2 separate regions of the Homo sapiens genome follow, and region 2 is reported to be linked to region 1. The links are microRNA targets in miRTarBase. Many come from high-throughput screens and were not tested one by one. Region 1 holds a microRNA gene; the other region holds the end of a gene's coding sequence.

Region 1 (5,073 bases):
TCATTTCCTTTCACCGCAGAGAAATCACAGAACAGAAACTCTGCTTTTCTCTGGCCAACTAATCACTACTTGAGTTTGGAAATATAACTAACATGCCTGTAGACAATGCAAAATGATAGTAAGCAATACAACTGAGATTGGCCACTATAAAACAGAATCCTAAAATTCAGGTCACAGTTTTGAGCAATCTTTAGAGCATTGTATATGCTGAAGAGTATTTCCCAGTAATTGAGGTGTGTATAATATAACTAAAAAGCAGAGGATCACCCTTTCCAGGGTATTTCAAGAGTTTTTCCAGAGAGATCCTCCTGGTATGTCCATGCCAGGTGACGAGCCCAAATTGGGTACCTTGCAGGGTTACGGATCCTGAGGGGACTTATCTGATACAGAATTAAGTCTGTAACCAGAAAAGCTCTTTCTGTCCTGCTCTACCTTAATGATAGACAGCTCTGGCTTGGATAAGACGGTTATAGAGACTCATCTATAGGAGTTTCATGGTGAATCTTGCAGTGATCATTAAAAACAGAAGCCATTTTTGTTTATTTTGTTTTGCTATTGTTTTGGTTGGGCTGAGGGCAGGCTGCCAAAGGAGGGAAAAGTGGGACTTTCTGGGCATTCAATAAGTGTTCATCATTTAGTGGTACAGCATGGGGGAGGGCCACAGAAAACTCTAATCTGGATTTCCACAGAAGACAAACATTTGGAGCCTGGGGCCATCTTTACCAGGCAGAAATATAATTCAGGTTTTCAACAAAAGCTCAGGATCACAGATTCAGCAGACATCTAAGGTCTAGTCCTGCGGACTGGCAGTAGGTTCTGCTTGTTTGCTCTGATTAAGAGGCCGGCTGCTTGCACCTTGACTTTCATAGTCTTCATGGTACAGGTGGAAAAGGGATAATAAGTGCCACGCTCTAGGTGCTGGTGAATGAGATGATGAGCTAGGAATGCTGAGGACTTAGTTCCCAGGAGCCCTAACAAGGTCTTCGGTCATCAGCAAGACAGAGCCTCTTTACTAAAAGGGTGGGAATCCTGTTGTACTCTATTTTTACTGAAGACTGGCATAAACCCAGTCTAACAAATGATATTTTGAATGTCTCATTGACAGAGATGCCAAATCCTTCACTTATTTTGATGCTAATTACTACCAGGATGTAATTCTAAAATTATTAAGCTTTAAAAGAAAAGTCAGAATCTATGTGTTGAAAGGATAAGTGATTTTCTTTTTTTCTTGAAACAGTGACTCAAGCTGTTGCCTAAAGGAGTTGGGGCTCCTGATTTCTGAGCTAATTTCCTTTTTGTTCTTTCATACTAGCTTTCCTCTTGGTTGGAATCTGCCTATCCTGTGGTCTTACATTCCTAAAGTTAAATGACAAGGAAGTTATTTGCAGTCCACAATAACTATTTTTCTTTAAAGTTTATACATGGTTAGATTCTAAGAAAAGTCTATTAAACTGTGTTACTGGTAAATAAGTCATGCCACTTCTTTAATTAAAACTCTCCAATTGCTTGTGGAGTCCCTCACACTAAAACCCCAAATTCTTACCATAGTCTACCTAGCTATACCCTCTAATCCTCTCCTTCCAGTTTTTCTCACTGCACTCCAACCACAGCTTCCCTGTTGAGCTCAAATACAGTGATTCTCACCTTTGGCTGCACATTACAATCCCCTGGGTGCCTCTTAAACAGAGATGCCCAGATCCCATCCCAGGCATTCTGATTTATCAGTGGCACAGCCCTTGATATTGACATTTTCAAAAGCTCCCTGTGCCTCTATGTGCAGAGAGCACTGGGAACATCTGGAGACTGCAAGAGTGCACTGAGTGTACACACAAGCAAGGCAACAAGCATGGTTCCTGATGCATCATATGTACTCAGCTCTTCAAAAAATATTTCCTGCTCTGTTTAATTACATTTATCTTCTTCCCTTTTTGAAAAATGGTCACCAAAAATTGGAATTGGGAATTTTTTCATGTTTGAAAAAATGATTATTTCAACTAGCAGGAGGATACAGACAACATTTAGAAAGTTTCAGCAGCAGCTTAAAAGAGCCCTTAATGAGTCCTGAAAATTAATACGAAGCCCTCTCCTTACCAGAGGTAAGTTATTTCCTGGCTTATGGTTCAGTATTTGTGCTATTAGTATGTGAATAACTAGTTCTCAAACTTACCTCCTACTGCTCAACATCAATTTCTGGCAAGGAAATCTAATAGGTCATACTAATGTGCCTTGATACAGAAATGTAATTTTTTTTTTTTTTTTTTTTGAGACAGAGTCTCGCTCTGTCGCCCAGGTTGGAGTGCAGTGGCGCAATCTTGGCTCACTGCAACCTCCGCCTCCTGAGTTCACTCCATTCTCCTGCCTTAGCCTCCTGAGTAGCTGGGACTACAGGTGCCCGCCACCATGCCCAGCTAATTTTTTGTATTTTTAGTAGAGACAGGGTTTCACCGTGTTAGCCACGATGGTCTCGATCCCCTGACCTCATGATCCGCCTGCCTCAGCCTCCCAAAGTGCTGGGATTACAGGCGTAAGCCACTGCGCCCGGCCCAGAAATGTAATTTAATCAAACTGAGATATACAGACTTCTCTTTCTGAGGATACCTGAGGGGATATGTGCCAGTCAAGACCTTGGAAATAGCATTTTAATAATTTTTGTTGTTAAAGTTATCCCACATTTAATTATAAATTTGGTTCATCTGATTTGTTTTGTGTTACTGGGTGAATGAGGAAGATAACTGGCCTTGATTTTTCACCCTGAAGAATTACATTTGTTCTTATTCTTTTTATGGAAAAGGATTATCTGTTTCCAGGGATCACCGAGAATTAGAGTTGGGTACAGCTCAAAAGTTTCATGGCAACCTCAGCCTAAGCCATAGTTGATTCTAAATTTCAATATTATTTAGGGCAGATGAATGTGAAACACTTACAGAAGGAATGAGGAAGGGCGATTAAATGTGATAATCTGGGGAGTTGAAGTTTGAGGAGGGCCTGGCAGGAGATCGTCCTCTTTTAGACTGTTTGGAATTTGATGGAGTAGCACCCACAAAGAGAGTGGGAGGAGCTTTCAGAGGGAAAATATTTTGGGTTCAGCTTCTAACACCCAAACTCCCTTGGCTGCAATTTTTTAAAAAACCAAGTAGCACTGAAGGAGCGCAGTAAGTAGCAAGCGAATCCAATAAAGGCAAATTAATTCCCAAGGCTGGTTTCCTTTCCAGCACAACAGCACTTTAGAAAAAGACTTTACTAAGATTAAAAGAGGTTGAGCATGAAACAGTAACCATCGAAACTTTTCCCCCCGTCTTGGTCATGAAATAGAAATTTGGTGTTTAATTTTGGTTGCCATGCAAGTCTTTTGATTCGTGAGGGCTAGGAAATTGCTCTGTTTAGCATAATCCCAGAGACCACTGTGAGGGATTGTATGAACATCTCACAGTTGCCAGCTGAGATTAAGCCAACTCACAGCCATCCGTGTTAGACCTGCAAGAGAAAGTGTATGAGCAGAGGCACGTGGCTGCCTCAGGTGGAAGCACATCTTCATACATCGAGTGCACCAGCAGAAGCCCTGATGTACCCCTCTGCATTTTTCTTGAGGCGACATTATCAAGCTACTCCTCTTGCTGAATTCACAGATTTCTGGCATATGCTATATTGCATGTAATGTCATAAAAGTATAATCTTTGCATTTAGAAAGGATTTACTCTAATCCATATATAGTAAGAAACAGCCAAGTAGGAGTACAGGTGAATGTAAAACCAATCACTAAAAATGATTTTTTAAACAAGCTTTATAGAGAACTTGGAAACATCAAAGCCAAACACTCTAAAATTTGTCCTCAGACAAGAAAACCAGCAATTACGTTGAAAAAGTAATGACCGTATACTCACCAAATGGCCAGATGTGTCAATAGCGGTGGCTATTACCTTTCATAGATGGTGGTATGTCCTCCCCTCTTGCCCACATCACTGTCATGGCTAAGTGAGACTGAGCCATGATCTAAGCCCCTCAGTCCACTGGGTGGGGCTAATCAATGGTAAGAATAATGATTAAGAACGGAAGGAAGAGGAAACGCCCTCAGAGTTTCCCCACCATCTGCCGTGGATGGCATCTCAACTTGAGTGAGTGTAAGAAGCACATAGGAAACTTGTTACAAATGTAGATCCCCAGGACCTACCTCTATATTTTGATTCAGTAGGTCTGGTTTTGGTGGCTGCGATTTGCACTTCGGTGGAGATTTTCCACTGCCTTTCTCCAGCTTCACTTCATACTAGACCATTTCTTCCTCTACATTGTAGACTCCAGCTCTAACAAGTTCTGAGAATCCAATGAGCTGTGTTTGCCCATACTTGGAATTATTTCTTCTTTCTCTCTCCCTCCTCTCTCTCTCTTTCACACACACACACACACACACACACACACACACCCCCTTGTGTGACAGTCACACATTGAAAACTATCACACACTGCCTTCTCTCCCCAGTCTCCCTTTTTTGGCACCTGTAATACACAATGGTGTTTTCTCACTCACATGCTTTCTCCTTCATTGACTGCAAACTTCCAAGTGTTGGCACTGTGCTTATTCATCTCTATATCCTCAACTATACTATTCTCAGTTTAGCATCTGATGTTTAATAAGTGCTCAAAAAAATTTTGTCAAACTAAATCAAATGTTTGTTGAAGCAAAGAATTATGGATTTCAGCTCATAACTTGTCCTTTAATAATTGAGACTTGACACAATTAAGAGAGTGGTAATTTACAGAGTTAGAAAAGTGGCTTTTCGTTTTAAAAGTCAGGTAAATATAAAGTTACAAAACAATTGAGAAAGAACAATTGAATATAATCTTGTGCCTCATATGGACTCCTAAGTACAAAGCTACTTTTGTAAAATAAGAATGTCTCATCATTAGGATTTAACTTTTTAAATATTGTTCTAAGTTTATTTTCTGGAGTCAAATTGCTCAGGATTAAAAATAAGCAGATTTTATCTTAATCAAAAAACAAGGGCTTCTCAGAGCAACATGAATGACGTTCAGTTTTTTCTTTTCTCTTAATCTTATATTTGATTTTCCTTTCTCTCTA
Region 2 (5,073 bases), not on the chromosome of region 1:
GGTTTGGGGGAAGGGAGGTAAGGGGAGAAAGCTGGAGGGAGGGGCTTTAATTGGAGGCCCCGTAGAGGACGCGCGGAACTTCTAAGGTGGGAAAAAACGAAATTAAAAAATCCTTTGATATCAGGGCTCTGAATCCTGCTGGTCAGAGCACCAAGCATTCAGTCTCTCTCCTTGCCTTTGTCTTACTTGTGTTCAAAGAAAAACAACCAGAAAAAAAAAATCTCATCATGGCAAATATTCACCAGGAAAACGAAGAGATGGAGCAGCCTATGCAGAATGGAGAGGAAGACCGCCCTTTGGGAGGAGGTGAAGGCCACCAGCCTGCAGGAAATCGACGGGGACAGGCTCGCCGACTTGCCCCTAATTTTCGATGGGCCATACCCAATAGGCAGATCAATGATGGGATGGGTGGAGATGGAGATGATATGGAAATATTCATGGAGGAGATGAGAGAAATCAGAAGAAAACTTAGGGAGCTGCAGTTGAGGAATTGTCTGCGTATCCTTATGGGGGAGCTCTCTAATCACCATGACCATCATGATGAATTTTGCCTTATGCCTTGACTCCTGCCATTTATCATGAGATTAATACTGTGATTCCCGCTGTTTTCTTTTTCCTTGCATTTTCCTAATATGCCTTTACTGATCCGTTTGCTGTGAACCCTATGTTATTTCCATGTGTCAAGTGGGTCTTGTGTTGCCAGCTTCTATTTGAAGATTGCCTTTGCACTCAGTGTAAGTTTCTGTCAGCAGTAGTTTCACCCATTTGCATGGAAAAATTTAAAGCTAATAAAGCAATTTAAAAAGCAATCTATACATTTATTGTCTCATTAAAAATGTATACTTACATATAACAGATGAACTAAAAAAAAATCTGAGATTAAATACACTAGAGTGTTAATTGGTGAACATTTCTGTGTGTTAACTAATCCCAGCACTTTGGGAGGCTAAGGTAGGCAGATCACGAGGTCAGGAGATCGAGACCATCCTGGCTAACACGGTGAAACCCTGTCTCTACTGAAAAAAAAATACAAAAAATTAGCCGGTCGTGATGGCACACGCCTGTAATCCCAGCTACTCGGGAGGCTGAGGCAGGAGAATGGCTTGAACCCGGAAGGCGGAGGTTGCAGTGAGCCGAGATCACGCCACTGCACTCCAGCCTGGACGACAGAGCCAGACAGTCTCAAAAAAAAAAAAGTAATATGTGACATTTTTTTCCTTTTATTATCTGGAGTTTGAGAAGCAATGAAAATTATTTTTCAATGAGATTATGAATGTAGTGCAGATACGTAACAATACTGGCTCAACAAATTTGAAGAGTAAACTCTAACTATCCTTCAGTCTTAACTGGAATAATAAACCTTCCCTTTATTACAGATGCATTCCTTTAAAGAGCCCGTTTTCTGCTCTGTGAAATGGGGAACAATGCTTGTCTTACAGGGCTGCTGAGTGGAACTGATGAAATGTGGAACTGTGTTGGGCTGGCTTCTGTCCCCAACTCCCCAACATTTAACAGGACCGGGACCCCCATCAGGTACTTAGGACTGGAGGAATTATCACTCATGTTTACAAGTCCAGACAGTGAAAATAGGTGGGTTCCCCCATATCATTCTTGTTATTTGCAATCCTCCTGCTCCCCTGATTACTGCCTTCTTGATTGGCCACACTTTCCCTTCTGCTGGATCCTATTTCTGTTGCTGTTGATGAGGTGCTAGGGTCTTCAAGGTAACAAGCCCCACTGATTTCTCTGGAGTCTCTGGTGAGCCAAATCCCCCTTTGACCTCTATAGAATTGTGGAGAATGTCTTTATAACTTGAGAGTTATATTTATCCTGGTGAGTACAACTCTTGTGGTTCTTGGGATTACATTGGTTCTTAGAAAAATAGCCCTTTCTGGTTTTCTTTCATAACTCCTTCAAATAACTCAGACAAGAGTGCACTGCGGCCTAACTGAGAAAATGCATCTGAGTGTGCCCTGAATTGCATTACTGCAAACCTCCACAATACAAACAGGCTGAAGGCTTTATTTGTGCCTGTGTTTCTATCCTTGATACGGATTTTCTCAAAGGAGACTCTTGGCAGGCCTGCCCACCCAGTTTAACAGACTTACCTAGACATGTAAATTACATTGGGAGAACAAATTTTCTTTAAAGCGGAAACACACTCCCTTCTTGTCCATACCTGAACCATGAAACTACTCTGTAAGTTCTTAAAAACTATATTAAGTATTTGGCATTGTTATTTCTTTGTGAGTGTGTGCCCTTTTCTCCAGACAGTTTCTGGTATAGTGCCCGACATAGTAGATATTAAATTATTAATTATTTTGATTGATTAATTAACTAAGAGTTAGAAATCCAGCTCAAAACTGTCCCTAACTCACTATCCTTAACTAAGGGGCCAAAGGCAAGTAACTAGTTATGTGGAAAGCATTATATTATTTCCAAAGGAACATAGCAAGGAAAGTTTCTAACTCAAATTCTGTAAACTTTTTTTTAAACCTTGTATATGTTAGTGTTTAGGGAAACATAGACGCCTTACGTGCATCATAATTACCTAGGGAAAGTGTTAAAAATGTTGACAGTTGGGTGCTCGTCCCACCCCCAACCAGCCACTGTGACCACCTGAATCACCAGAATCAGGAATTACTATTTTGACAGTTTCCCAAGTGATTCTCATGCATCTGAGTTTTGACAACATAGGCATAGAGAAACACTGACAGTAATTACACCATTTTACAAATTTCGTGATCCAAATTACCTTACTTACTTGATTCCACAATGCATATACGTTTCCAAAGTACAGCATTCCAAAATTAGACATTAGGCCATCAATGTATGTTTATACTTAAACCAGTACTGTTTTATCTTCTTTTCAAATATCCTATTAAACTAATGCTTTATCATGAATTTATTATTAATAATAAATGTAATAATTATGAAATTATTAAATAAATTATGCATTATCATTTCTGTGCCAACCTGTGCCCTTTCACAACAATGATTTTGTTTTAGTCTCCCTGGAGCTCAGTTTCTAGCACAGTGCCTAATATAGTAGATGTTTCATAACATAATAATTCATTTACTAATTAATTATTAAATTATTTCAGGATTGTAGTTTATCTAAAACAATATATAACAACATTTTTGAGCCTGTGGAGTTTTTTTTAATGCTTTCGTATTTTGAAATTTCTATAAAGAACATTTTAAAATGTTAGTACTTCTTATAATTATTTATATAATGTCATCATACATATTTGGATCATGAATATAGGGAGAATATAAACAAAACCGTAATCCAGTCATCCAAAGATACCATTTGTAAGTTTTTAAATCTTCATCTTATATTTTATCATGACAAAGCTAGGCTTAGAGCCTCTTATGAGGAACACTGCCTCTTTCAAAGCCCCTGCCAAAGAAATATGTTTAGCTTGCCATGTTTGTTACTATTTTTCTAATCTCTCCTCTCCACTTATCAAAGCTGATTGACTCATTTGATCAGCTTTCAGTTAGCTCCTGATTTTCAAAACTCAAGCCATCACATTTCAGAAGTCCACTCACAGTGATCTAATGTCCAATTTTGAAATGTATTTTTTTCTATCTTGAAAAACTACAACAATGTTTGTCTTATAAAGTTCTCATCATGTCTGCATTAAAAAAAATCAATTCCTTTTCCTTTAAATCCTTAGTGATTACTTTCTTTTTTTATTTTATTTTATTTATTTTATTTTATTATTATTATACTTTAAGTTTTAGGGTACATGTGCACAATGTGCAGGTTAGTTACATATGTATACATGTGCCATGCTGGTGCGCTGCACCCACTAACTCGTCATCTAGCATTAGGTATATCTCCCAATGCTATCCCTCCCCTCTCCCCCCACCCCACAACAGTCCCCAGAGTGTGATGTTCCCCTTCCTGTGTCCATGTGTTCTCATTGTTCAGTTCCCACCTATGAGTGAGAATATGCGGTGTTTGGTTTTTTGTTCTTGCGATAGTTTACTGAGAATGATGATTTCCAATTTCATCCATGTCCCTACAAAGGACATGAACTTATCATTTTTGATGGCTGCATGGTATTCCATGGTGTATATGTGCCACATTTTCTTAATCCAGTCTATCATTGTTGGACATTTGGGTTGGTTCCAAGTCTTTGCTATTGTGAATAGTGCCGCAATAAACATACGTGTGCATGTGTCTTTATAGCTGCATGATTTATAGTCCTTTGGGTATATACCCAGTAATGGGATGGCTGGGTCAAATGGTATTTCTAGTTCTAGATCCCTGAGTGAACAGGCAACCTACAAAATGGGAGAAAATTTTCACAACCTACTCATCTGACAAAGGGCTAATATCCAGAATCTACAATGAACTCAAACAAATTTACAAGAAAAAAACAAACAACCCCATCAAAAAGTGGGCGAAGGACATGAACAGGCACTTCTCAAAAGAAGACATTTATGCAGCCAAACAACACATGAAAAAATGCTCACCATCACTGGCCATCAGAGAAATGCAAATCAAAACCACAATGAGATACCATCTCACACCAGTTAGAATGGCGATCATTAAAAAGTCAGGAAACAACAGGTGCTGGAGAGGATGTGGAGAAATAGGAACACTTTTACACTGTTGGTGGGACTGAAACTAGTTCAATTTTGAAATGTATTTTGGCAAATTTAGAAATATAAAGTAAATATATTTATTTACTAGAACAGAACTATTTATTTACGAAACTTAAAAATTGTCTTAGAAGTAGAAAAAGTTTTGAGTTTTATAAATGAAATGGACAAAATTCCACGTCTACTCTGTCTCCTTTCCTGACATCACATGTATTATGTAGTAAATATACTGATTTTGTTTGGAAAAGTCCAGTTTTTAAATTTCAGAAAGATAGCATGTTATGTAGTCAATATTTCATGTGTAACCAGCTGGAATGCTTTCTAAGTGATATAACTATACATAACCCAATAAATAAGGCATCCCTATAAACTTGAAAATCTAATTTTTAAAAAATTTTTGCCAGACATTTGAAAAGTCACAATTAGCATGTTTAGAAATTTACTCTGTTGGAAAAT

The links. Region 1 holds the annotated microRNA hsa-miR-216a-3p (UCACAGUGGUCUCUGGGAUUAU, at 3,386-3,407, opposite strand). A microRNA usually pairs through its seed, bases 2 to 8, with sites in the 3' UTR of a target mRNA and lowers its output. Matches are read on the target gene's strand: a 7mer-m8 pairs with bases 2 to 8, a 7mer-A1 pairs with bases 2 to 7 and ends in A, and an 8mer does both.
Region 2: miRTarBase lists BEX3 as a target of hsa-miR-216a-3p. Seed matches in the 3' UTR shown: 7mer-A1 at 590-596.

What each region holds. Positions count from the first base shown.
Region 1 is chr2:55,985,596-55,990,668 of GRCh38, forward strand. MIR216A (microRNA 216a) reads right to left here and starts at 3,464; the gene lies at 3,355-3,464. The region is part of intron 2 of MIR217HG (MIR217 host gene); the gene reads right to left. The region is part of intron 3 of LOC105374690 (a long non-coding RNA gene); the gene reads left to right.
Region 2 is chrX:103,377,265-103,382,337 of GRCh38, forward strand. It overlaps BEX3 (brain expressed X-linked 3), which reads left to right. Exons shown (of 3, transcript NM_206917.3): 3 at 246-900. The coding sequence starts at 258. The coding sequence ends at 563. Among named protein-coding and RNA genes, the nearest start is that of BEX3, 3.3 kb to the left of the region's middle.